Linked DNA regions of Homo sapiens. The protein of the gene in region 3 interacts with the protein of the main gene of each other region in a pairwise test. Each region holds a gene or a part of one and is shown on either strand. Other genes may lie near its edges.

The links.
Region 1: the proteins of DTX2 (region 3) and ECSIT interact in binary tests that used the Homo sapiens proteins (3 or more experiments, as listed by UniProt).
Region 2: the proteins of DTX2 (region 3) and PRR32 interact in binary tests that used the Homo sapiens proteins (3 or more experiments, as listed by UniProt).
Region 4: the proteins of DTX2 (region 3) and C1orf94 interact in binary tests that used the Homo sapiens proteins (3 or more experiments, as listed by UniProt).
Region 5: the proteins of DTX2 (region 3) and KLC3 interact in binary tests that used the Homo sapiens proteins (3 or more experiments, as listed by UniProt).
Region 6: the proteins of DTX2 (region 3) and TBX15 interact in binary tests that used the Homo sapiens proteins (3 or more experiments, as listed by UniProt).
Region 7: the proteins of DTX2 (region 3) and MSS51 interact in binary tests that used the Homo sapiens proteins (3 or more experiments, as listed by UniProt).

What each region holds. Positions count from the first base shown.
Region 1 is NC_000019.10:11,522,635-11,526,134, forward strand, and holds part of ECSIT (evolutionarily conserved signaling intermediate in Toll pathway, mitochondrial isoform 1 precursor), read right to left. Parts: intron 1,220-3,500; exon of another isoform or gene 722-1,219; intron 1-721.
Region 2 is NC_000023.11:126,818,426-126,822,286, reverse strand, and holds PRR32 (proline-rich protein 32), read right to left. Parts: upstream 2,559-3,861; 5' UTR 2,444-2,558; coding exon 2,424-2,443; intron 1,629-2,423; coding exon 752-1,628; 3' UTR 501-751; downstream 1-500.
Region 3 is NC_000007.14:76,464,709-76,468,208, forward strand, and holds part of DTX2 (probable E3 ubiquitin-protein ligase DTX2), read left to right. Parts: intron 1-3,500. UniProt on the Homo sapiens protein: Regulator of Notch signaling, a signaling pathway involved in cell-cell communications that regulates a broad spectrum of cell-fate determinations.
Region 4 is NC_000001.11:34,175,468-34,179,706, reverse strand, and holds the start of C1orf94 (uncharacterized protein C1orf94), read right to left. Parts: upstream 2,801-4,239; 5' UTR 1,918-2,800; coding exon 1,598-1,917; intron 1-1,597.
Region 5 is NC_000019.10:45,347,250-45,350,749, reverse strand, and holds part of KLC3 (kinesin light chain 3), read right to left. Parts: intron 3,304-3,500; coding exon 3,234-3,303; intron 2,810-3,233; coding exon 2,590-2,809; intron 2,105-2,589; coding exon 2,017-2,104; intron 1,931-2,016; coding exon 1,829-1,930; intron 1,322-1,828; coding exon 1,148-1,321; intron 914-1,147; exon of another isoform or gene 410-913; coding exon 319-409; exon of another isoform or gene 237-318; coding exon 199-236; exon of another isoform or gene 110-198; coding exon 3-109; exon of another isoform or gene 1-2. UniProt on the Homo sapiens protein: Kinesin is a microtubule-associated force-producing protein that may play a role in organelle transport. Plays a role during spermiogenesis in the development of the sperm tail midpiece and in the normal function of spermatozoa.
Region 6 is NC_000001.11:118,981,844-118,985,343, forward strand, and holds part of TBX15 (T-box transcription factor TBX15), read right to left. Parts: intron 2,036-3,500; exon of another isoform or gene 1,747-2,035; intron 1-1,746. UniProt on the Homo sapiens protein: Probable transcriptional regulator involved in the development of the skeleton of the limb, vertebral column and head. Acts by controlling the number of mesenchymal precursor cells and chondrocytes.
Region 7 is NC_000010.11:73,430,762-73,434,984, forward strand, and holds the start of MSS51 (putative protein MSS51 homolog, mitochondrial), read right to left. Parts: upstream 2,801-4,223; 5' UTR 2,752-2,800; exon of another isoform or gene 1-2,751.

The DNA.
Region 1 (3,500 bases), on a different chromosome or scaffold from region 3:
ACCTGGGAGGCAATGTTACAGTAAGCTGAGATCGCGCCACTGCACTCCAGCCTGGGTGACCGAGTGAGACTCTGTCTCAAAAAAATTAATTAATTAAATTTAATTAAATAAAAGTTACAACTTTAAACACTGAGGGGCTAGTAAAAAGAAAAAAGGTCGGGCACGGTGGCTCACGCCTGTAATCCCAGCACTTTGGGAGGGTGAGGCGGGTGGATCACGAGGTCAGGAGATCGAGACCATCCTGGTTAACACGGTGAAACCCCATCTCTACTAAAAATACAAAAAAAATAGCCAGGCGTGGTGGCAGGCACCTGTAGTCCCAGCTACTCAGGAGGCTGAGGCAGGAGAATGGTGTGAACCCGGGAGGCGGAGCTTGCAGTGAGCTGAGATCCCACCACTGCACTCCAGCCTGGGTGACAGAGTGAAAGAAAAAAAAGTTACAGCTGAATGTGCCTGCCTCTCCATCTACCTCCTCCACCACCTCTTCTGCCTCTGCCACCCCTAAGACAGCAGGACCAACCCCTCCTCTTCCTCCTCCTCCTCAGCTTACTCAATGTGAAGACGATGAGAATGAAGACCTTTATGATGATCCACTTCCACCTAATGAATAGTAAATTCAATGTGTTTTCCTGATTTTCTTAATAACATTTTCTTTTCTTCAGCTTATTGTAAGATTATAGTATTATATATATATATAACATTAAAAAATATGTTAATCACCCTTTCCCTGCCACTGCCGAGTTGCGCGGAGGCGGAGGCTTGGGTATGTTCAAGATTCAGCTTCACCCATAACCCACTGCCATGGCCGAGGGAGGCATTGCTGCTGGAGGTGTAATGGATGTTAATACTGCTTTACAAGAGGTGCTGAAGACCGCCCTCATCCACGATGGCCTAGCACGTGGAATCTGTGAAGCTGCCAAAGCCTTAGACAAGCGCCAAGCCCATCTTTGTGTGCTTGATCCAACTGTGATAAGCCTATGTATGTCAAGCTGGTGGAGTCCCTTTGTGCTGAGCACCAAATCAACTTAATTAAGGTTGATGACAACAAGAAACTAGGGGAATGGGTAGCGCTCTGTAAAATTGAGAGAAGGGAAACCCTGTAAAGTGGTTGGTTGCAGTTGTGTAGTAGTTAAGGACTATGGCAAGGAGTCTCAGGCCAAGGATGTCATCCAAGAGTACTTCAAATGCAAGAAATGAAGACATAAATCTTTGGCTCACATAAAAAAATAAGTTAATTGACTGTTATGTAATCACTGAGACCTCTGGACAACAGTGGGCTATTAGTAGTTAAGATTTTTTGTTTTGAGACAGGATCTCACTCTGTTGCCCAGGCTGGAGTACAGTGGTATGATCATGGCTCACTGCAGACTTGACCTCCCAACTCAAGCAATCCTCCCACCACTGCCTCCTGAGTAGCTGGGATTACAGGTGTGCGCCACCACACTCAACTAATTTTTACAATTTTTATAGAGGCTGGGTTTCCCTCTATTTTCCAGGCTGATCTCAAACTCCTGGGCTCAAGCAATCCTCCCACCTCGGCCTCCCAAAGTGCTGGAATTACAGAGGTGAGCCACTGCACCTGGCTGGATTTTGGGGGTGTCAAAAGTAGCCTGGCAGGGTGGCTCACGCCTGTAATCCCAGCACTTTGGGAGGCCGAGGTGGGCAGATCACGAGGTCAAGAGATCGAGACTATCCTGGCCAACATTGTGAAACCCCATCTCTACTAAAAGTATAAAAATTAGCTGGGCGTGGTGGCAGGCGCCTGTAGTCCCAGTTACTCGGGAGGCTGAGGCAGGAGAATCGCTTGAACCCAGGAGGTGGAGTTTACAGTCAGCCGAGATTGCGCCACACTGCACTCCAGTCTGGATGACACAGCAAGGCTCCGTCTCAAAAATAAATAAATAAATAGAGCACCCCACTGAAGGCTGGGCACAGCGGCTCATGCTTCTTATCCACTTTGGGAAGTCAGAGTGGGAGGATCACTTGAGCCCGGGAGATCAAGAACAGCAAAAAGAAAAAAAAAAAAGAAAGAAAAAAAATACCAGCTGGGTGTGGTGGCACTCATTTGTAGTCCCAGCTACTCAGGAGGCTGAGGTGGGACGATCACTTGAGCCCAGCAGTTCAAGGTTATATGAGCTATGATTGTGCTACCACACTCTGGCTTGGGTGACAGAGTGAGACCCTATCTCAAAAATAAAAAAATAAAAAATAAAAAGCACTCTGGCCAGGCGCAGTGGCTCATGCCTGTAATCCCAGCAATTTGGGAAGCCAAGGCGGGTGGATCACAAGGTCAGGAGTTCAAGACCAGCTTGGCCAAGATGGTGAAACCCCGTCTCTACTAAAAATACAAAAATTAGCGGGACAGGGTGGCGGGCGCCTATAATCCCAGCTACTAGGGAGGCTGAGGCAGGAGAATCACTTGGACCTGGGAGACAGAGGTTGCAGTGAGCCGAGATTGCACCACTGCACTCCAGCCTGGGCAACAGAGTGCAACTTCATCTCAAAAAAAATAAATAAATAAAAATAAACATAAAAAGCACTGCAATGACTTTCATATGCACCTAGGATTAAGACCTTAATTTAAATTTTCAGGGCCAGGCTCGGTGGCTCATGCCTGTAATCCTAGCACTTTGGGAGGCCATGGTGGGAGGACTGGTTGAGCCCAGGAGTCCAATACCAGCCCTGACAACATAGCCAGACACTGTCTCTATAAAAAAATTTAAAAATTAACCAGGCATGGTAGTATACACCTGTCTGTGTTCTCATTCCTTGGGAGGCTGAGGTGGGAGGATCACATGAGCCTGGGAGGTCCAAGCTACAGTAAACCAAGTTCATGCCACACACTCCAGCCTGAGCAACACAGCAAGACCCTGACTCAAAACAAAAAAACAAAAACAAAAACAAAAAAACTACAGCTACTTAAAGTGTGTTCTAGGGACTGGCAGTGTCAGCAACATTTGGAAGTTTATTAGAATAGCAAAATTTGGCCGGGCATGGTGACTCACGTGTGTAATCCCAGCACGTTGGGAGGTCCAGGCCAGCTGATCACCTGAGGTCGGGAGTTCGAGACCAGCCTGACCAACATGGAGAAACCCTGTCTCTACTAACAAAAAAAAAAAAAAAAAAATACAAAATTAGCCGGGTGTGGTGTATGCTTGTAATTCCAGCTACTTGGGAGGCTGAGGCAGGAGAATTGCTTGAACCTGGGAGGCAGAGCTTGTAGTGAGCCAAGAGCACACCATTGCACTCCAGCCTGGGCAACAAGAGCGAAACTCCATCTCAAAAAAAAAGCAAAATCTCGGCCCTATCCCAGACCTACTGAACTGGAATCTGCATTTTTTTTTTTCCCAGGCGGAGTCTTGCTCTGTCGCCCAGGCTGGAGTGCAGTGGTGCAATCTTGGCTCACTGCAACCTCCGTATCCTGGGTTCAAGCAATTATCCTGCCTCAGCCTCCCGAGTAGCTGGGATTACAGGCACATGCCACCATGCCTGGCTAATTT
Region 2 (3,861 bases), on a different chromosome or scaffold from region 3:
TATGTAATTAGCAACAAGGAAAAGTTGAAACACAAACACCAGTTCGTGTTGAAGCAGTGGTCTAAGAATACTCTTCCATCTTCCCTCCTCCTTCTTTCCTGACTTTTCAACTTGGTTCTGCCTATGACTGCTAAATGTTAGCTCTATTACTCTCACCTCAATCTCATCTGGCTTCTTTTACTGTTTGTTCATTTTTCTCTATTATCTGAACTTTAGGCTGCCTTTATGGAACTTTTCTTAATTCAGCCATCCAGCTCTAAGCACCCCTTATAGCCTTGGGTAGATAGAGATTCCCCAATCTAGCCTTGGCCTAGGAAGAACCTAACCACCCTTCCCCAGTCACACTGCAAGACAACTCAATAGAAAATAGTAACAGTCATTTAACTAAGCCATTTAGAAAACACTGACAGGTTTGTTTCTGCTTTAATTACCTTAAAGATAGAACACAAAATCCAAGGCTTTGGTTCCTGGGGTGTCATTTTGAAAAATAATTTACAGCATTTCAGACTTCACAATCTTTATTTAATCTCCAGTATGTAGGGCACATTTGTGCTAAACAGAGTGTGGTAGGGTACAAGGTTTCAAATAGGGCACATTAGTGCTAAACAGAGTGTGGGAGGGTACGTGGTTTCAAGTAGGGCACATTAGTGCTAAACAGAGTGTGGGAGGGTACAAGGTTTCAAATATAAAAGCATAAATGAATAACTTTCACCTCTTTCCACAACCCTTTTTTCATCCTTCCTTTTTGCCATCAGCTGTGCTCTCTGTTGGGTGATGCAGGAGCTGGCATTCCCCCAGAATGGAAATGGGCAAAATAAGAAGGCAGTGGAGGACCAAATATCGGAGGAGGAGCAAAAGGAAGAGGCATAGTGAGAAAGGGATTGAAAATCGGAGGTCGAGGAGGGATGAAACAATGAACAGTAGAGCAAGAAGGTAAACCTGGAGTACTGGAAGACAACGGGATAGGCCTTGGCCAATTATGCATGGGGTGGCATGGGCCCCTGAGTGGGAAAGAAACATGAGCCAGCTTTCCTCTGCAGGCTATTCGTGTATTTCCGGGCGGCACCTCCATTACTATCCCTGATCTAAGGGTGGGAATATGTGAAGGGCCTCTCACTTGTGGGCCCCTGGGTGGAAAGAACCCTTTACCTTGTGGCAAAGCTACATGCAACCTTGCGTTATTACTGCCTCTCTCAGTGCCCCCATTGTTGACCTTTGTGCCCCCTACTATCAGTGCAGGAGGGCCGCCAGAGACTTCCCAGGACACATTAATAGCATCCTGTCCCTCCTGCCTCCAGCCTGCCAGTGCATCAGAGCTGTTTACTTCTGCTGTTGCTAGGGACTCTTCTGCAACAGCAGGTGGTGGCCCGTAGGGGTGTCTATGAGCTCTCAAGCTATGAAGAGGAATGCAGGATCCTGTTCTTTCAGAGGGCCACTCCAGTTGCTTGCTATCCAGATCAGTCAGCACATTGACGGAAGGTCTCAGCGGTACTTGAGGTTGACCCCAGGGCTCTGCGTCATCCTCTGGCTTGGAACTCAGACATTGCAGGGGCATGTCGTGGTGCAGCTCCTGGTTCCCATTTTTGTCCACAGATACTACCAAGGGTGAAGGGGCGTGCCCTCCAAGGCTTGCAAAAACAGAAATCAAACAGCTAATAAAAATGGAAATGCACTGACCAGAAAATAGCTACAATATGTAATTGACTGAGCTCACTGAAATATACCAGGGAAAAAAGGAGTGCCCTCTCCCCTATATGTAGCCAAATACTTGCTCAGCGCTCTGGCCCCTTCCCAGGTGGCTTCTTTAGTACTAGGCTACATGATTACCCTTCATGACTACTCAGTGGCCTATTTCATTCCTCATTTCCCCACCTCCACAAGGCAGCAAGGAAGCTTAGAAGATGCACATAACTTAATAGTAAGCATATAATAGAAAATACCAGCTTTTTCAATTCTCTCTAGGATCTATGATTCACTAATCCTGGCATTCAGATTCTGGCAAGATTGTTCTGGTATGTCTTCCGAAGTAAAATATCTTTTTCTTCACAGAAGTCAAAGAAAAGTTAGTTATGTTAACAAACACACAAGTTTCTCTTCTTGAGGTATCATTCAACACTCACACCAAATTTTGTTAAAAATTCTTTCATTCAACCACCACCACACCCTAGAGTAAGAATTTCCTCATGTTTAAACCCCACTGTTTAGACTAGGGATTTGTAAATTTTCTTTCAAAATTACACTTCAAAGTTGCCACTCTTAAATCCGGTATTCTTAGTAACTAAATTTATGTCCTTCAAGTTTTTGTCTGTAATTTCCTCCCACATCTCCTCCAACCCATTCATCCCTGTCCCAGTTACACAATAAAGCAATTCAAACTGACTTTGCCTTCAAAATTAAACAGTTGTACTCGGTTTTGTACTTACACGTTTTCAATACAAGCCATGAAGAAATTTGATCAGAATAGCTTTCCTGAGGTGGTGGAGATAACCCACTGAACAGGCCAGCTAGGTCTGGAGAAATGACTCCTGCTTCTGCTTTAGAGGCTTGGCAACTAGAATGAAGCCAGGGACCAACTGCTTCTTTCTAGATTTGGAGTTCTCTTTCTGGGGTTACCAGTTGCTAAGGAAGGGAGGGAGAAAAGGAGTGGGGAGGGGGGTGGGTGGGGATGAATCTGTGACACTCCTTTGAACTTAAATGTGGGACTGGTGTTTGCACAGTAGTAGATGGATGGTAAAGGCATTCACTACATTAATTCTGATGCAGGGCAGTTGGAAAGACAAATCATTTCAAGAAGGATTTAGAAGAATCATGGAAGCATGATATTTTTTAAAGAGTTATTTATGAAGTTTTAGTTTCTACAAGGTAGTTGTCAAGTCTCCTCAAATTTGGAAACACATTGAGCAGAGTATTGTGCCTAATATTGTAACTTAAACTTCCAGTTTGGGGATGCATATTATTAACTTGGTGGAGAACAGAGGTTTGGGGGCTAAATTGCTTTTCTATCTGTGAAGATGAAACAAGAACTCCTCTAAGAATCATTGTGACATTATTTTTTAGCCCCTCACGTTGCAGTTATATCCTTCATCTTGTCTGTTAGTTTATAAGCTCTCTCTCTCTCTCTCTGTCTCTGTCTATGTCTGTGTGCACGCGCGTGTGTGTGTGTGTGTGTGTACGTGTGTGTATTTCCTGTAATAGAGCTCTGGAAGTTTCTCTCAAGTTGGGAGGGTCAGAATAAATGGCATAACAGGTATCATAAATTTATAAATATTAGCTTAGGTTTGGCCATGCAACATTTTTGCATAGGGAACTTTCTGTTTGTCCAGCCTAAATTTCATTTTAAGCAAGTTTACTTTCCCAGCTTTCTTTTCTGCCATTGATCTACAGATTAATTGCTCCGAAATTACAACAACCATTCCATCATCCAAGACAATTACTGTTGCTCTAGGACAAAGCCATAAACTTGGCAAACCTGCCTAAATTTACATAAAATTTGTGCTGTGCAGGCTAGACCTGGGAGATTGTGTCTTCCTTATTTTCAATATTAGTATATGTTGCTACAGTTCAACAGTAATGTATATTTCTTTTCTCTTAAGGAAAGATAACAGACTCAAATACCATGTGCTTCAATTTTTAGATATATGGTGTCTGTGTATCTGTGTGTGTGTGAGAGAGACAGAATAATGCATAAGTACAAAGTACTAATGTAAAGGAATGGTCACTACTGCAAATCAACACAACTCATATAGAAGTAACCTTTGGGGTCTGCAAGTCCACATCTTCCTGCCAGAGTGTGTTGTCTCCATCTATACAAGAAAGTGGCATGTTTCCAACATATTTTCCAGAAGAATCTGTTCACTTGCC
Region 3 (3,500 bases):
TTTTAATGGAGCACACTGGAACATGTGGAATGGGTTTAGACTGGATTATTCGCTTTGTGGCGGTCTTCTTACATACATCATGCCAGCTTCTTCGTGGGGAGAGGCAGGTGAGTGGTTTTGCCCTCAGTTGCTTATAGTCTAGTTGAAGAGATAAAGTGAACATAGAGAACTGAAAAGGAACTTGCTAAGAGGGTGTTTTCTTTCATTCTTTTTGTTGTTGTTGTTTTGTTTTGTTTGTTTACTTTTTGAGACAGGGTCTTACTCTGTCACCCAGGCTGGAGAGCGGTGGTGCAATCTCAGCTCACTGCTCAACTTCACCTCCCAGGCTCAAGAGGTTCTTGTGCCTCAGCTTCCCGAGTAGCTGGACTTACAGGTGCACACCATCATGCCTGGCTGATTTAGAGGGTGTTTGCTTTCTGCTGGGCACATCCAGGCATCGTGGGAAGTGCTGTTTAAATTGGGCCATAAAAGGGTGGGTAAGGTGAGGACAGGGGACCAAGTGGGTGGGATTCAGGGTGAAGCAGAGTCATGGGGGTGGGGACAGACACGCTGATGCACATGGGAGTAGTGGATCCTCATTTACACTCTGGAAGGGAATTGTGGAGAGGGAGGTATAGATGAGGGGATGGAAGGGAAGGGCACCGGCAAATATTGTTGATAGCGAGGGAAGGGCGGTATTGTGATCGGCTTTGACTGTCAGCCTAAGGAATTTGAATTTCATTCTAGAGATCCAGGGGAGGTGTGTAAAAGACAAGATCAGAACGTTAGTTCAGGAAGCTTAATCTTTTCTGCCCCCCCATCTGAGATGTACAAGAGGGTTAGAAAGCAGAGTTGGAGAAGCTGTTTGGGAGGGAGCACTTATTTGTTTTTTTGTTTTGTTTTGTTTTTTTGAGATGGAGTCTCGCTCTGTTACCCAGGCTGGAGTGCAGTGGCGCCATCCTGGCTCACTGCAACCTCCACCTCCCGGGTTCAAGTGATTCTCCTGCCTCAGCTTCCCAAGTAGCTAGGACTACAAGCACCTGCCACCATGCCTGGCTAATTTTTGTATTTTTAGTAGAGACGGGGTTTCCCTCTGTTGGCCAGGCTGGTGTCGAACTCCTGACCTCAGGTGATGCACCCACCGAGGCCTCCCAAAGTGCTGGGATTACAGGCGTGAGCCACTGCGCCCGGCAGGGAGGGGGTAAAGTGAGAGGCATAAGGGTCCCGGCCAGGTGTTAGCAGGGGGCTTCAGAGGTGAGGAGAGAGCAGGGCAGGCAGCTGCTAGGCCTGGGGGAGCGGGCTGCGGAGGACTGAGAATCTGAGGTTTTTCTCTTGGCCGCCTGGGGGAAATCCAGGGGGAAAAGGAGAATGAGGAAGGAAGATGCGTTTGGCCTCAGACGTGTTGAAGGTATTAAGAGGCCAACAGGAAATGAGGCCATGGGCTAGAGAGAAGAGCCCTGATTCATTCCCCAAATGCCTCCCGAAATTCTGTGCGCCGAGGCTTGTGTTTGGCACTTGGAGTACAAAGATGAATTCAGCAGTCTCTTTGGTGTTTGCCTTATCAGCTAAGCTGAGAACAAGATTGATTAGTACACACTCCTCAGTGTTCATGCCTGACCTACTTTTCCTTATTTAGTAAGTTATTTTTAATAAATGTAGTAAGCTCTGGCAATCTAGGCACCCAAAACAAAAGCTGGGATCATGAAACAAAAGTATATATCTAATCTTTTTTTTTTAATTTTAAAAAACTTTAAAAAGTTTTCTACTTTATCAGGTCCCCTTAGAACATCTAATCATTTCATTTGAACTTGTTTTCTGTTCTTACCCTGAGGTAATCATTATCTCCTTTCTTTCATTTTTTTCTTAGTTTTATCTTACATGTGTATTTCTTTGTTTCTCTGTCTCTTTTTTTTTTTTCTTTGAGGCAGAGTTTCACTCTTATTGCCTAGGCTGGAGTGCAATGGCACGATCTCGGCTCACTGCAACCTCCACCTCCCGGGTTCAAGCTACTCCCGATTCTCCTGCCTCAGACTCCGGAGTAGCTAGGATTACAGGCATGCGCCACCATGCCCGGCTAATTTTGTATTTTTAGTAGAGACGGAGTTTCTCCATGTTAGTCAGACTGGTCTCAAACTCCTGACCTCAGGTGATCCACCTGCCTCGGCCTCCCAAAGTGCTGGGATTACAGGTGTGAGGCACCGCGCCTGGCCTATTTCTTTCTTTTTTTAGAGACAGTGTCTCACCTTGTAACCCAGGCAGCTGGAGTGCAGTGGCATAATCACGGATCACTGCCGCCCCAAATTCCTGGGTTCAATGGATCCATCCCCTTCAGCCTCCTGAATAGCTGGGACTACAGGCACAGGCTACCATGCTTAGCTAATTTTTAAAGTTTGTGCAGAGGCAGCTTCACTGTGTTGCCCAGGCTGGTCTTGAACTCCTGGGCTCAAGCAATTCACCCGCCTTGGCCTCCCAAAGTGCTGGGATGATAGACATGAGCCACCATGCTCGGCAGTGTTCATCTTTCGTAGCTATTGCTAGACCATTTCCTGAATGTAGTGCTTATACCAGTATCCACTTTACCAGCAGTGTCCTGTGTCTTGCAGCTCCACAGTCTTACCAACATTTGCTGTTGGCCAAGTGAATGGGTAGAAAATGGAATCTTTGGGAACTTGGTTTCTAGGTCCCTGAGCCCTGCTGCTGAATATCTCCTCTTATGTTTATTGGCATATGTGTTTCCTGTGAAATATTCATGTCTTTTGCCAGTTTTTCATTAGGGTTCTTGGTGCTTTATTTTTTGTTGATCTATAGGGCTCTTTATATATTGCTGATTTTAATCCTTCGTGTCTATTGCAAATATCTTCTCCCAGCTTTTAACCTATTATTCCTCTTTCTTTAAGGTGTCTTCTGTTGATCAGCCATTCTTCATTTTAACATAGCGAAATGTATTTTTTCCCTAGTACTCAGTTTTCTGGGTCTGGTTTGAAGTCTTTTCCTGAACATAACCCTTGCCTTTAAGGAGCGTATGCATTCTCCAGTGGAGGAGACAGATAATGGCACTGAGACGTCATGTGGGCATTGATTGTTAGAAGTGGCCACTTCTGCCTGTGGAGCGGGAGCGAACTTAGGAAAGATCTCACAGGGCAGAGTCTTGAGCTAGGAATTAAGAGATGAGTAAGTGGACAAGTGCGATGGGCATTCTCAGTGGGGGACGAAGGGCATGAAACATCCTGACCTGCCCTGGGCACTGCCAGGAGGTCCAGATGGCAGGAGCTGACGGTTTGAGGGGCTCGGGCAGGGCATCCCGAGGACAGCTTTGGGTGATCTGTATGCAAGGGAATATTGAAGCCATGGGAACAGATCCTGAGGATCCGGGGGGAATGGAGAGAGGAGGGGAGGAGGGGAGAGGGAGGCCAGGGCCTGATTCCCGGATGCAGAGAATGTTATCAACGCCCGGTGTGGCTCTGGGGAGCACCTGGGGCTTCCCAGGGGCGGGTGCTGTTGGCATGCTGCCTGCTGTGCTG
Region 4 (4,239 bases), on a different chromosome or scaffold from region 3:
AAGAGCAGCCTGATTTGTATAATGCATCTTTCATTTCCCTGTCTCCCATCACATTGGATCCTCATTATCAACTCTGAGGTAGACAAGGCAGCACATATCACCCTCAATTTGCAAATGAGGAAGTAAAGGCCAAATGGAGTTAAGCAGCTGGCCAAAGGTGCACCAGTTCAATTTTCAGCCAAGTGCAGACTGGAAGTCGAGTCTGTCTCCATTAACTCTGTGTGACCTGGCAAAGAGGATGCCATCTACTGGAAATTGCTACTGACCCTTGGTCCACAAAGTGGACAATCAGCTTCTTGGCCATTGAGAGCAGAGCACAGCCCCATGGGCCCTCCTGCCAAGGCCCTGTCCCAGAGCAGATGGCAATGAGCAGGGGAGAAGGGCTCAGTGCCACTGAAGGGCCTGACAGCAGGATTTTAGCTGTAGATGGGCCATTCCTGTCTGAGCCTTGTCATGCTGAGCACAGGGCAGGGAGGCAGGACTAGCCAAAGTGCCTTCCACCTTCATCTGCAGTAAGTAAATGAGCCCACAGAGGGACAGCAGGTAGTGTAGAGCTGGGTGTCATTTACACTTTGCTTTTCTTCTTAGCTCTTGCTTAGGCATCCCTGAAACCCGAGGCAGCTGATAAATGCCTGAATGGCTCCCCAACTCCAGAGCATCTCTGAACTGAGCTGTAGCATGTGTTGGAGCAGGCAACACTTAATTATCGGTTAGTCTTTAATTAGCTCTTAATTATTAACACTTAATCCATCTGTAAAATGGGGACACTAATACCTGCCTCACAGGGACTCTGGGAACATTAATTAAGTTTACAGTCCACTTTGAAGATGCAAAACGTGAAATAAGTAAGTGCTCAACGGCGGTATTAATAACCACAGCAGATTTACTTTCTTTTCCTAATTTCCCTTTTTCCTCTCTGCTCCTTCCTTTCCTTTCGAATATCCATCCTCAACAATATCTGCCCAACTTTGCCCTGATGGAGAAACACTTAGCTCTGTGTTTCCCAGACACAGGATTTCCCATCCCGGAAACGGGCTATTTACAGCCATCTTCCCGCACTTTAATTTTCTATTATGTCCTCTGAATATGTCAGTGCCTTCCCAGTAAATATTTTGATGTGTGCTCTTGCAGCAGCTTCTGTGGAGGCTGAATGGGACAGCTGCTCCCTGTATTAGGGAATTCCAGATGTGATTTAAAACCATCAGACTCATCCATGTGAATGCCTAGCCTTTAGGTGGGAGAGGGGAAGGATCTTCTAGTTGCTTCTGGGGAAAGCCACAAGCCATATAACCCTTAGCCTTAGCTAGGGTGGTTTTTCAAGGACCTCAGATTCACATGCGTTTAGGATGAGAAATGTCTGCTTAACGGGCTGGTGAAGAGGCAGCCTGGAATATAGCCCTAATCTGACTCTTCACCCACAAAACTTCAGAACTTTGGTCAGCTCTTCTATAAAGCTTGGACAAAGGACCATGGAGGGGGCAATATACAGCCTTTAGGGTTTCACCAGCCTCAACAGTGGGCCAGAACATTCCCCCAGAAGGTCAGACTTCATCTCCTCCCTCCTCCCTTGCTGCCAATGGAGTAGGGGGGTACTTACTCTTCTTGAAAGCTGAGCTCATTGCCTCTTAGAGTTCCAACCACAGGGACAGAGAGCTGCTCCATGGAGGTCCAGGGCTGTGAGGCCTCAGGCAGGCCTTGAACTCTCTTCCAGATTTCATGGCAAGTCTTGTCTAGGCTGTCTTGGGGTGTGTCCTGGTGGATCCAGATGTATCTGGGGAATGGGCCCAGGGCGCAGGGGCCCTTGGCCACCAGGGCCGAGGATGAAGGAAGCCCATTCCCGCTGGCCATCCTCCTCCTCTCTTTCTGGAAGCCCCTCTGTCCACCCAGGGCTAGAACACAACCACCACCACCCCTCATTCACCAGAAAGGGAGATGAGGATGGGGCTTGGCAGAAGTGGGTCAGTTCTGTCTGGCTTTCGCTCCAGCAAGGTGGTTAGGTTCAGAGGCCTTCTATTTGTGTGGGAGGGGTGGGTGGAGGACAGCTTTCTTTTGGGGAGGGGAGGGCTTATTTTGATTTGTTTTTATTTGCTCTTTCCTGACTTTTGCCTCCCTCCCCCTCTCCCTTAGAAGAAAATATTTAAAAGTCAACAAAAACCAGTAGCTTAGGAACAGTGGAATGCTGCGGAGCTCAGGAACCAGGCGCCTGGGCGGGCAGAATGACATCTGGGAACAGCTGGAAGGGGAGGGCTGGCTCTCCCCACAGTCCCTGGCACTGCCCCCTTGCGACGCCGCCGTGACAACTTTCGGCGCCTGGGCTCAGCCCATGCTGTCCCGCTAAGCCACGCGGAGGACTGGGTGCGGGCCTGGCACCATTGTAGGCACTCGGGGGGCGGGGCCCCGCAGGAGGCGCTCGCCTGGGCGTTCCCAGGGAGCCCCTCGCAGAGCGAGCGTCAACGGCCCGACTCCCACCCCCGGCCCAGGTCCTGCTTTTCTCTCGCCCTACCCCTCCTGCTCCCGGTCTCCCGCTGCTGCTCTGCTGCCCCCGGAAAGAAGGGATGAGGCGTGTGTGGATGGGCCCACAGCCCTTAGTCCCCGGCCCCCAGCAGACCCCTGCCCCAGCCGCGCCGCGCTGCCAGGCGGGCACCGGGAAGGGCCCAGCGGCTCAAGAGCGCGCTGACTCGGCAAGGCAGGCTGGGCCGGGCGGCTCCCACCAATTTGCCTGCCAGTAGCTCCCACACCCTCGCCGTCGTCGAGCGGGGGAATTCTTTCTGTGGGTTTCAAACGCAACGGCTCGGTGCGCGGGGCGCCCTGGGTTCGGAGCCCAAGACCCGCCGGTGGGGTGGGTGGGGGTGGGGCCCAAAGGACCCCAGAGCGCTTCGGGGGATCAGAAGTCAAAGCCAAACGCGCCGCCGCCCCACTTCGCCGCTCCACACAAATCTCAGCTCCTGCCTGGGGGTCCCCCGGCAACCTCGATTTTAATCCTAACTGCCATTTTATGGGGCGCTTGCCCTGTGCCAAGCGCTGGGCTCACATTCAATCCTATTAAAGCTCGTGAAATTAGTACCACTTTTTATTATCGTTCTACACGGGAGGAAAGCGAATCTCAAAGTCATAAGGGATTGCGTCCAAGGCCCCCTGAGAAAAGGGAAGCTGAGACTCAGACCCCAGCACTCTAGGCCTGATCTAGCCCTTGACCACTGAGACAGCTTCAGTAGGTGGGTAGGAGCAGGAGTAGGAGGTCCGAGGTGCAGGGAGAAGGGCTAAGTTAGCTGTTTGCTGATCAACAGGCCCCTACCCTCACTGAAGCGGCTTCATTCAATTGGGCACTGACACAGTACCTCTGCTGAGGGAGACTTTCTGGTTCCGAGAGTCAGGGGGTTGCTTCTCTAGCAATTCCCCTGAAAAGGAAAAGCAAGAGGGTGGAGACGGAAGAAAGAAGAATGGACACAAATAGAGGAAGATGGCAGTCTATAAATGCAGGGCTGGGTTGAATCCTGACACTCATTTCCGAGCTGTGTGACCTTAAGAACTTTCTGAACTTCTCCCATCCCCATTCATAATTCCCCCAGTACTGATGCAACCCCTCCTCTGTGCCCGATGAGTTGCTGGGCACTGAAGAAGCATAAGGGTGGGCAAAAATGGCATGGTCCCTGCTCTCCTGGAGCCTGTATACTAGCGAGGAGAGATCGATGCAAACCAGCCAAGCGAGTAAAGCAGCAATAATTACAGATGCAATGGGACTCTGATGGAAAATAACTATTAGGTTGGTGCAAAAGTAATTGCGGTTTTTGCCATCACTTGCAATGGCAAAAACCACAATTACTTTTGTACCAACCTAGTAACAAAGTGAGGCACTGGGGAGAAGAGGGGAGGCAATATTCCATGGTGGTCCAGGCCGACTTCTTTGAGGAGAAAAATTTGAGAAGGATGAGAGGAATTCCTTTTCTGTAAAATGGTGTTAATAAATTATGAGGATCATGTTTCTGGCACATAGTAGGCACTCAAAAAATATGTGTTGGATGAATTAATGGTATACTGTATGTAAAGTGCCTGGTATACAGTAGGTGCCCAATACGCAACCTTGCTCTTTACAGAGGGGCTGAGTTCCTGGAAATGTTTACTCTAAATTTTGAAATCTGAGCTTCATTCTCCTTTGATTTTCATTACAAAATTGAAGATGTGTTCCTTTGGGGAAAATTCTGAGGGCCTAGACTGAATAAAATTATAGTTAAGAATGTA
Region 5 (3,500 bases), on a different chromosome or scaffold from region 3:
ACCCGGCTGCTCCTGCCGCCGCCTCGCCTCGGAGCCGGGAGACCAGCTTCTCACTTCCTCGCCTGATAGACTCACGGATCTTGGAGAGTGAGCTGCTGCGGCGAAGGGCCTGGGGAGGGGCCGGGGATGCTGCTCAGTCCCCCAGGCCCATGCAGTCCCCACGCCCACCCCAGGAGCCGAAGCACAGCCCATCCTCACCTGTTCTGCGTCACCAGCTGTGCCTGTGTTGGGGGCACCTAGGGGGAAAGATGGGGGACACTGAGATGGGGACATAGAGAAGCCACCAGGAGGGAAGACAGACAGGGGCTAGGGGCTCACCGAGAGGGGCGGGTAGGTCCTCCTTGTGGAGGATTTCTTTGTACAGCTCTTCCGCTTGTTGATACTTGTTCTGTTTCAGGTAGGCTGAGGCCTGCGGAGAAGGGAGTGTCTGGGAACTTTTCGGACCCCAGTTCCCAACACTGCATCCAGTCCCGCCTTTTTTTTTTTTTTTGTAGAGACAGGGGTCTTGGTATGTTGCCCAGGCTGGTCTTGAACTCCTAGCCTCAAGTGATCCTCCTGCCTTGGCCTCCCAAAGTGTTGGGGTTACAAGCGTGAACCACCACGTCTGGCCCCACTTTCTAATGTGCTGACCTGGCCGTATCCTTCCCCTGCCTAAAGCCTTGCCCTGGGGCAGAGTGGGTTTGGAGCTCGGCCTTACTTCCTGCCCTGGGGATGGAGGACAGGCAGCCTCCTGTTTCTGAGCCTGTCTGCTGTACTTTGGGCTGGTGGCATGGCCTCGGTGCCTCAGTCTTCCCACACGCAAAGTGGAGCGACAGCTCCCACCTCATAGGGACGCTATAAGAACTAGCGATGTGGGGACCGGGCTAAGAGGGGAGCCGGCCACAGTGAGCTCAATAAATGTCTGCTGCTGCCACCTGTGCCTGCCAGCTTCCGCTTCACTGGCTGTCCTCTGGCTGCCGTGGACTTACGCGTTTCCTGATTCCGTGTTCTGTGCTGAGCCAGCTCCTGTGTCTGACACTTGCTCCAAGGGCCCGGCCTGGGGGGCCCCCCCCCACCCTCACGTTGCTCACCCTGTATCCAACCAATGGGTGCCTCCCCAGGGCAGGACCCTCCACTCTTGGCCCACTCTGAGCCCCAGGGGCCTCACCAGGTTGTTCTTGGTCTTGGCCACGTTGGGGTCATGGGGCCCGCCCAGTGCCTCATAGATGCTCAGGGCCCGGGCATAGTGCCGCTCCACGTCCTCAAACTTGCCCTGGTTCTGGCACAGCAGGGCCAGGTTGTTGAGCTGCTTGGCCACATCTGGGTGGTCAGCACCCAGGACCTGGGGGCCAGGGGTCACAAGTCAGAGGGATCATACAGGATTGGTGGGACACGTGACATCACTGCTGTATGGTGGTCATGAGTTGGGGATTACAGGGTCAAAGCAGAGAGTGACCTGAGAGGTTGGGGGCTGGGGACACAAGTTATACCATCTAACGGGATTACCAAGGTCAGAGGTCATGGTGGTCCAGAAACGTGGGGCACAGGGTGAGATGGGTAGGTCAGGGTTGGGCTTGTGCTGGTGGCCATGAGGGGTTGGAAAGGCTATGGGGGGACCCAGTTGGAGGGTGATGTGTGAGGTAAGGCGAGAGGTCAGTCAGGGTCAAGACCAAACTGGGATCTCAGAAGGTCAAGGGTGATGGGTTGGGTGATCTAGGCTCCAACTGGGGTCTCCCAATACCAAACGCAAGGGGCCCGAGGGTCAGGGTCACGATGTACGTGCTCAGCATCCCTGGGGAGGGCTACATGGGACAAGGGGTTCCTCGGGGTGGGGTGAGGGGGATGGGACCTTCTCTCGGATCTCCAAAGCGCGCTGGCACAGGGGCTCTGCCTCCCGGTAACGCCCACGCTTCCCATAGAGGACAGCCAAGTTGTTGAGCGTGGCGGCCACCTGCGGGGTTGGGGGAGGCACAGGTCAGGGATGGGCAGGTGTGGCCCCACTTTGACCCCACTTCGTCTCCCTGGGGCCCCACTCACCGCGGGGTGCTCAGGGCCCAGCGTCTGCTCCCGGATCTGCAGGGCATCATGGAGAAGGTCTGTGGCTTCTTTGTACTTGTTCTGGTCCCTGTGGGGGGCGCCCCAGGAATGGAGGGGGTTAGCCAAGGGTTGGGGCAGCTGCAGCCACAGGGGCTGGGCCAATCCTGACAGGCCCAGGGAACCTGGCTGAACCAAGCATGGGTGGCACACCCTTTGAGGGCCTTTTGTGGGCCCCTCCATATTTCGCAATTCTCTAACACTGGGCCCTGTACCCCCAGACCTCTGCCAAGCTTCTAGCCACCCCAGGTCTCCTGCCTGCTCTGTTGGGGTCCCTGGTGTCCGTGCTCTCTGACTCCTCTCTGCCTGGCTCAGTGGCCCCCCCAGATCCCTGTCCCACTCCCTCTTTGCCGTTCTCACAGCAGGAGCCTTCCCTTCCTTTCCCATTCTTGCTGTCCCCTCCCCTGACCTCCCTAGGTGCTCCATGGTGACAGAGGGGGCACCAGGATCCTTCCACTTGCACCCAATGGGTCCCTGCCGTTCCTGCCCCCAGCCATGGCTGGCCGCAGTGCTCACCGGTACACCAGCGCCAGGATGTTGAGCATGGTGGCCACGTCAGGGTGGCAGTGGCCCGAGCTGCGCTCCAGGTCCTCCAAGGCCTGGCGGCACAGAGGCACCGCCACCTCATAGCGGCCCTGCCCCGCGTACTGGATCACGAGGTTATGCAGGGTCCGAAGGCGGGCAGGGATCTCATAGCCACCCTGCTGAGCAGCTGCTGCTCCTGCGGCCTCAGGACCTAGGTGGGGTGGGGTGGGCTCTGGGTCACTGCAAGCCTCCTGCCCCTCCAGCCTCGCATGAGGGGACACGTGCCTCAGAACTGCCGGACTGCCTAACTGGCCCCTGGGACTATGGGCCCCCACGCTAACTTCTGAGATAGGAGTCACTAGCATCTAACCAGCTGGTGGGATGCATCCTGGCCTCGGGACAGGAACACGGCAGCCCACCTGCCCTGTGGGATGTGAATACGGGGCCTGCCAGGCTCATAGCGGCTACCCTGTCTTTGTGGCTCCCAGCCTCACCTGCACTGTCACATTCAGGGTCCTCCTCACCCTGCCCTCACCTCCCCATCCCCTGGCTCAGAGATTTTGGGGTCCTGCAGCTCAGAGCCCCCTCCCCACCCTGGCCTGCCATCCTCTGTGGCATGTACTCCCAACACCCACCTTTCCTCTCCTCCTCCTCGCTGGGGAACAGGGAGGCCAGGCTGTCTCGGCGAGGCGGGGACTCAGACTGCTGCAGAGACAGGAAAGTGGGGGGCCGGGGTGGTGGGGGCTTGTTTCAGAGACCGGGGCCCTGGCTCTATCTCAGGTTTTTGTTTTTTTGTTTTTTTTTTTTTTTTGAGACGGAGTTTCGCTTGTTGCACAGGCTGGAGTGCAATGGTGCGATCTTGGCTCACAGCAACCTCCACCTCCTGGGTTCAAGCCATTCTC
Region 6 (3,500 bases), on a different chromosome or scaffold from region 3:
GACCCCTGAGTATGTCAGTCATGCACATATAAAATTCCAGACTTACTAGAAACCAGGAAAAGCAAAGCAAAAATAAACTACACGGATGAGAAAGAGTAAGGAAAAGAGATTCCACATTCCACCAGTTCCTTAGTTTTCCCTTTTGTGAAAAGTATCTCAAAAGGTCAAAACATAAAGCTCAGATGGGAAAATCATTTAAGTATTTTCTCCTATTGAACAACTTTATCTTTTGAGAGTAAGAAAGCAATAACCAGCTGCACTCCCAGAATAATAATCGAATGGAGTCCTGTTTCCAGAAAGGAGAAAGGTATATAGCATGCCAATCTGCCCTTTATCCCTGTGGAATTTGTACAGTTCGGCCTTGCTTTAAAAAACAAAAAACAAAGAAAAAATTATAGCCACCCTGAGAAGGAATTCACAGATTTAAGAGGTAATTGTTTTTCTCCCGGGTGTGAGAAATAAAGTTCTACCAGAGTCTATAATCAGGATCTCAAAGCGATCCTCTCATCTTATAATTTTTTTGGCAATAGAACGATTGTGATGGACCGGAAATATTTCACTCAATAATAGCATTGCATGCCCTAAGAGAGGACTGGATGAACACAATGTTTAGGCCTTCTAAGCCAAAATGTAGTTGTCCCTTTCTCCTTGTGGCCTAATATGAGGGTTAATGACGAGGAACTCGTTTCCATGTTTACACTCATGAAGCACATTATACAGATAAATGGGGAACACAAAACACAATACCCAGTATTTTTAGTTTTGGTCCCCAGTTTAGGCATTGCATGCCATTCTTCACTCCTCACATGCTGTCTATATTAAAAGATTTTAAACAAATTTTCTTTCATAATTAAAAGATTTTTAACCATTTGAAGTCATTGGTATGGGAGGTGTCAGAAAAATGGCAGACGATTTGTGTCAGCATCATTTCAGTCTGAACTCCTGTTTAAGAAATTTAATTCTCCCTTCCTCCCTGCATGAAGGTTGCCCCCATGAAATCTTCCTTCTGGGAGTTTCACCTATACAAATCAAGATACCCAAAGTGGCAAGCTCAGAGCCCAAATATAGTGCTCAGCAAGAAATAACGTTGAGTTGGGAGTAGATCTGAATTTAGAATTGCAGCGGCGGTAGACTGTGTGTGAAGTTGCCTAGGAAAGCCTTCGCTGCCCATGAGGTTTGTGCTTCCCCAGCGGGTCTCTGAGGTGCAGAGGTGGACGCCAGAGGCGGGTGAGGGGTCGCCCTGCACTTCGTGGCAGCAAAAGGAGAGACCCGCACACCCCCTTGTGATCCCTGGGTCTATCATTACTGGCTTCTGAAGCGCGGGAACCTAGGGTGGGAAGGGACCTTTGGAGATGCAAACCATAGCACATTTTACCTTCCTCCCTATCACAGTCCAAACTCTACATCTGGGTTTTCCCATTCTCTGAACTTCCCATTGCCCTAGTGCAGTTTGCTGTGGTCATTTCTTTGGGTGGGAACAGGTTACAATTACTTCCCTTTGCCTACTGGTTTCTATTGTGCCACCGCGCCGGGGCCGGAGTTTTACATAGAATGTCTTCATAACCATCCCCGCTGCCCGGGAACCCAGCCCCGCGCACCCAAAGGGCGTCTAATTTAGTAAGATCCGATCAGTGCGCAGAAAAAGGCCCTTGGCGGTCATCCCCTCAGCGAACAATAATCCTCACTGGCCCATGACAAACTCGGGCCTTAGATCCCTCTCGCTTCCCTTCACACAAGGTCACTTACCAAAAGGGTGACCTCCGTGGAAGACCGTTTTAACCTGACAAGCGAGTACCTTGCGTAAGTCCACCAGGCCTCACCCTTGACTCCTCGGAGCCAGGCACCTCCAGGCCAGCACCAGTGCAGGGGCGTGCACGGCAGAGACAAACCAAGGTTCCTTGTCCCTGGACTCAACCCCAGCAGACCCTCCGGCATCTCACTCTACGCGTTCGCCGAACACCCTGTCCCTGCGGTCTGAGCTCCGGCCTGTGCCCTGGCTGGCGCTTGCCCCGCGCAAACACAAACACATTCTCCCCCGCTGGCTTGAACTCATCACTTTTTATTCGTTACTTAAACGTCAGTAAAGAGTCACTTCCTCCGTGTTCACCCTGTTACCCTATTGGGGGTTGGAGGTTGGTAGAGAGGTGATGTCAGAATTAAAATCTCTGAGTTTTATTTTGAGCAAACAAACCATAAACTGGCAGATTAATTCATGTGACCACTTGATCTAGATAACTCCAAAGAAGAAAGTGCCCTGGGGCGGCCGCGCTTTCTGCAAGGGCTTTTCCTATCTCATTTCACTAGCAGTTGAGCTGACGGGTGCGTGCGAGAATGCGAGACCTGCCACGTGTACACGTGTACGCGGAGTGTCGATCTGCCTGCGTGTCCTTGGATGTGCCTGTCTAGGTGCCCACCCGCGCGCGCCACCACATCCCCAGGCCTCTGGAACGCAGCTGCTGTGTGGCCCGGCCCGAAGTTTCTGGAGGAGGAAATCCCTCCACAGAAGGTTTACATTATTTCGCTCCGCGGGAGACCCGGCTTCGGCAGCACTTAGCAGAAGATTTTGGCGGGAAAGGCCCAAGCCCTAGCTGAGGACTCCGGGTGGAGCAGGGGCTGAGGTCCGAGCGCAGATGGCGCCGCCGAGCGCCTGAAATATACTTGCAAGGCCGCAGCAATATACTTGCAAGGCCGCAGCCGGAGCAGCTGTTCCAGCCGATCCTAGCTCGAAAGTTCCTCTGTTGCTCTGGGAGAGGGCGGGGGAGAGCAGGCTCGAGAGCCAGGCTCCTCCGAGGCTGGTCTTGAGGCACTTCTCTAGTAGCTTCTCCAAAAGACTGAGAGTGCCGGCGTAGGTATGACAGTGAGGGTACCTCACAGACCCTTCTCCAAAGTCTGGCGGGCCTTGGGGTTTTTCGGGGCCACCAGGCTCGGTGGAATTTTTGAAACGCTTTCGAAATACATAGTTTCCTCTGTGGAGTGAGTGCCTACAACGCGCAGGCCGGACTGATCCCCCGTTGCTGCAGGTTGGTGCCCCAAGCTGCGGGTGCTCGGGCGCCAACTAAAGCCAGCTCTGTCCAGACGCGGAAAGAAAAATGGGCTGTGAAAAAGCAAAAGGCCTCGTCTTTGAATGAAAGTTAAACATTAAAATCTGACCCTAGAGTTGTCTAAAGATCGCGGAATTTTGAAGCTCCGGCAGAGCGGACTAAAAAACGGTGCTATGAGAGATGGTGAGAATACTCTAGGCATGAACGTGTGCGTGTGTGTTTGTGTGTGTGTGTGTGTTTCATTCTTCCCGCAAAACAATTTTTTGTTTTTTTCCTATTCCCGGTTTGTTATCGGCCTAGGGCGGGAGAACCACGCAGCGGCTTCTGGGCCCTAAGGACAAAAGAGTTAAAACAATGAGGCTCACCCGGGAAGAGACGCTGCCCTGGGCACAATAGGGTCGCCTGCATTACTCCTCCATACACACATCTTTAAATGTGTCCCTGTGTGTGTTCGTTAGG
Region 7 (4,223 bases), on a different chromosome or scaffold from region 3:
CTTAGGTATGTGCCCAAAATATTTAAAAACAGATACTCAAACAAATACTTATATGTGAATGTTCATAGCAGCACTATTCGCAACAGCTAAAAGGTAGAAACAACCCAAAGGTCCATCAATGGATAAATGGATAAACAAATTGGGATATAAATATACATATGAAGATGTATATTATTCAGCTATAAAAAGAAATGAAATACTGATACACGCTACAATGTAGAGGAACTTCAAAAAACATTATACTAAGTGAAGAAAGCCAGACACAAAATGTTGTATACATGTTGTATGATGCCATTTCTATGAAATATCCAGAATAGGTAAACCCAGAGACAGAAAGCAGATTGGTAGTTGCTAAGGGCTGGGTGGAAGGGAAAATGGGGAGTAACTGCTTAATGGTTATGGGGTCTTCTTTTGGGGTGATAAAAATGTTTTGGAACAAGACAAAATTGATGGTTGAACAATACCGTGAATACACTAAATGCCATTTAATTGCTCACTTTAAAATTATTAATTTTATGTTATATGATTTTCACTTCGATTAAAAAAGAAAGGAAGGAAGGTATTCATAGAGATTGAGAGGCTAAAAAGTTATTAATCCCCAGATTGTCTTCAGGTACAGAGAAATAACAGAGGATTAAAAACGCTGGCAGTGTGAATGAGGAAACTGTTAAAGTTCAAACCAGGGATCATGTTTTGTTACAAAAATGATCTGACATTTGATCCTTCTAGATCAGATCTGTTAGGAAAAACCTCAGAATCATCATGCAGCTGAGGTGTATGCAGGTGGCAAAAATAAACAAAAAGCTCCCAGAATTATCCAGCTCATATCCATATCTTACAACATGACTCTTAAAAACCTGTCCTCAGGTTAATGGAGGAACAAATTTGTATTTTCCTTTGTACTTTCTATCTCCTCATCCTTATGTTTCCATCCACCCTCTTAATGTCTCCCCTTATCCCATGGGTGAATGGATGGTTTCAGTCCACAGAACAGAAATAGTCAAGCTCATCTGTATACCATATCCTATATATTACCTTCAATGAAGAAATTGGACCTAATGATATTAGATTATCTTAGGGTTTAAGGGTCATGTCCTTTTACCAAAAGAGTAAATGGAATTGCCCTTCACACTTTAGGGCCCAATTTCCAACAACTAACCTCATTCTGTCCTCCACTTTTAATCACCTCACATTCTCATTGCATTTTCAGAATCACTGCCATTCTACAAAAAGCATTTATCTACTCTACCCACCTGCCTCAGGCAAGATAACATTTTCTTTTTCTTTCTTTCTTTGAGACAGAGTCTCACTCTGTCACCCAGGCTGGAGTGCAGTGGTGCGATCTTGGCTCACTGCAACCTCCACCTCCCGGGTTCAAGTGATTCTCCTGCCTCAGCCTCCTGAGTAGCTGGGATTACAGGCTCGCGCCACCATGCCCAGCTAATTTTTGTATTTTTAGTAGAGATGGGGTTTCACCATGTTGGTCAGGCTGGTCTCGAACTCCTGACCTCGTGATCCACCCACCTCGACCTCCCAAAGTGCTGGGATTACAGGCATGAGCCACGGCGCCCGGCCAAGACACCACTTTCTTAAACCTTGAAAGAATGACTTTTTTTTTTTTAAATAGGTATGGAAGGAAAGTGTGATTTGAGACAACTCTAGGGTCTTAAATCCCAGAATTTATAATAGATATCTCCCTGAAGTTAAAACATAAGCCTTTTTGCTGCAATGGAAGCAAGCCACTTAAGGTCAGAAAGGTACTGCTTTACTTTTCCGCATTTCCAAGGTGAGGTCTTCCTCTAAAGGAAGATTAGCTCTTGGCAATCTGGGAGTTGGCTGAACTGGTCAGAAAGCAAAAGGATCACACAGTTTGAGGAAGAGGAGTGGTGGTAAAAATCCCTAATGTCACAGTCTCCTCTGTGTCTAGAGCACAATGTTCATGATACAAATGAGTTAGCTTTCTGGCAGAAAAGAAAGAAGGTGGGTGAGAAGCCAGGTCTTTGATCTGCATCTATATACATCATCAGGTTCATGTTTGAGTTTATATACCCCAGGCCCAGACACAGCTTCCCTGGTTCTAAATCTCCTGTAAAGAGCCCCAGGCTACTCCCTGTTCACAGGTTATAAACTGAGAGAAACAAAGGAAAAAACAGGGGACTCACAGGAGAAGCTGGAAAGAATTGCAGTAAGCTCTTTGAACTTTCCAGAGTCTAGAATGCTCTCCACTTAGAAAGGGAATCCCTTTCATTTTTTTCTAGCCATCCCCAGTGACTTAGGCTCTAATTTAGTCCCAGTATAAGAGAGAGAACACCAACACCAAGAACTGGAGAGGAGACATGATCTTGATTGCCTAGAAAAACTTTTATCCTTCATGTCCAAATTCAAGACAAAATATTAATCTATTCCTAGACCTAGGTTTCCCATCTTCTTCTTTACCACCAAGAGTCCCAAGTTTCACCTAAACTACAGTCATATTTTCACTATCTCCAGATAAGGAGTGCTCATCTAATTTTCTGTAAGTCACCAAAAAATGCAAAACGTCTTTGGAGAGGTAGGGAGAAGGAAGACTGAAACTGGTCATTGGAGATCCTTATAAGGGGGTAGGAAAAGAGAAGGAGAAATACATTAAGGACACTGTAATTATGGCCACATTCAGCTGTTTAATCAGTGATTAACACTGCCTGGGGTGATAAATACTTTACTCAATTATAAACTAAGCAAGCAGACAGGTTGACGGAAAAAAAAACTTACCCTGCTAAGTCCTCAGCTTCCTTCCTTCTCTCTTTCCTCCAAGTGAAATGAGTGCTTGATCTCTTCAGATCTAGGTTGTGGCTTACTTGCAGCTGTCCCTTCATATCACTTTCCTTTGCAAACTGCTGAAATGCTGAGTCTCAGTGATTAAGTGTGCCCTGCCAACCAGACAGACAAGGCTGAATTCTCCCTAATGAGGCAAAGAGGGATCTGTCCCCCTGCCTGAGGGCTTCTCTCTAACCTTTGTTCTCTGCCAAGGGGGCTCAGGACTGTCAACACTCCCAAGTGTTAGCCAAGTAAAGGCCAGGCAGGCTGACAAAAAATGAAACCTGCTGCTTCCTAGACTTCTCTCACTCAAGGCAATATTTCTGTTCTCAGTTTACAGCTTCAGAAGAAAACCCTTTGGATTAGTGCAGAAGTCAATATTTGATTGGAAAGGGTAAGCACCTTTCCAACCAAGTGGGAGGAACCAGAGGACCCTCTGGAGTTCTGTTTGTTGATCTAGACACAGGATGAGTTCCCCCAGGCCTGGTGTCCTTTTTCAGCATAACAAACATTGTTCAAACAAAACTCAACAATGTCCAATCTTGGATTAAGTAGAAGGGAGAAAATAAATGGCCATTTAATGGTACAGAATGAAATCAGTTGTAGGGGAAACATGCAGAATTAACTTGTAAAATTCACTTTCCCTGAAAGAAGGGTAAGATAACTCTCTGAGTGAGAGAGTCATCAGGAGCACTTTACCTGTATTAAGAGAGGAATAAATGCTTCTGGGATATTAAACAAAACCAAAATACTAGTTAATGACTAAAAATACATACTATTTCTAGGAAAAGAAAATAGAAAAGAATCAGCTCAACCATTCTCTTATCCTCCTTGTAATTGCAGCTGATCCAGGAAATTCAATTCCACAGTCCTAGCTTCTTTCTACTTACAGCTAGCCTATCTGAAGTTGTTAGGGCAGTGGTCCTAAAAGACTGCAAGATCTTTCTTACCCTCAAAAAATTTTTTTAAAATTTTTAAATAAAAAAGTTCTGACTTTCTGCTTATATCTGACCCCAGCTCTCACTTACCTGCTTCTTTGAACATCATCAAACTGGGGAACAGAATCACTCGCAATGAGGTCCCGGAATGTGGCAAATCAAATCCACACAGGAACCCCAAACTGTAAAAAGTACAAACTACATGCAGGGAAGGTGGAAGAAAAGTGTTAAGGATTCAACCAAACACTGCATAACATTATGTAGAATAGCTGTGGATAAAGGAAAATCAGTTGCAATAGGCAAAAACCCTAAATAAAATAGGGGTAATTCACTTTGTGCAAAAGTTTCAGGCCAACTTCAAATTTAACAGGCTTCAAAATTTATCTGAGAACCTCAAATGTTTTGAGTTCTGTTAATAATGGCTGAACTGCAGAAGATACAAGACATCAGAGATTGACTTTTCTAATTCAGAAGTTGTCAATGAATATA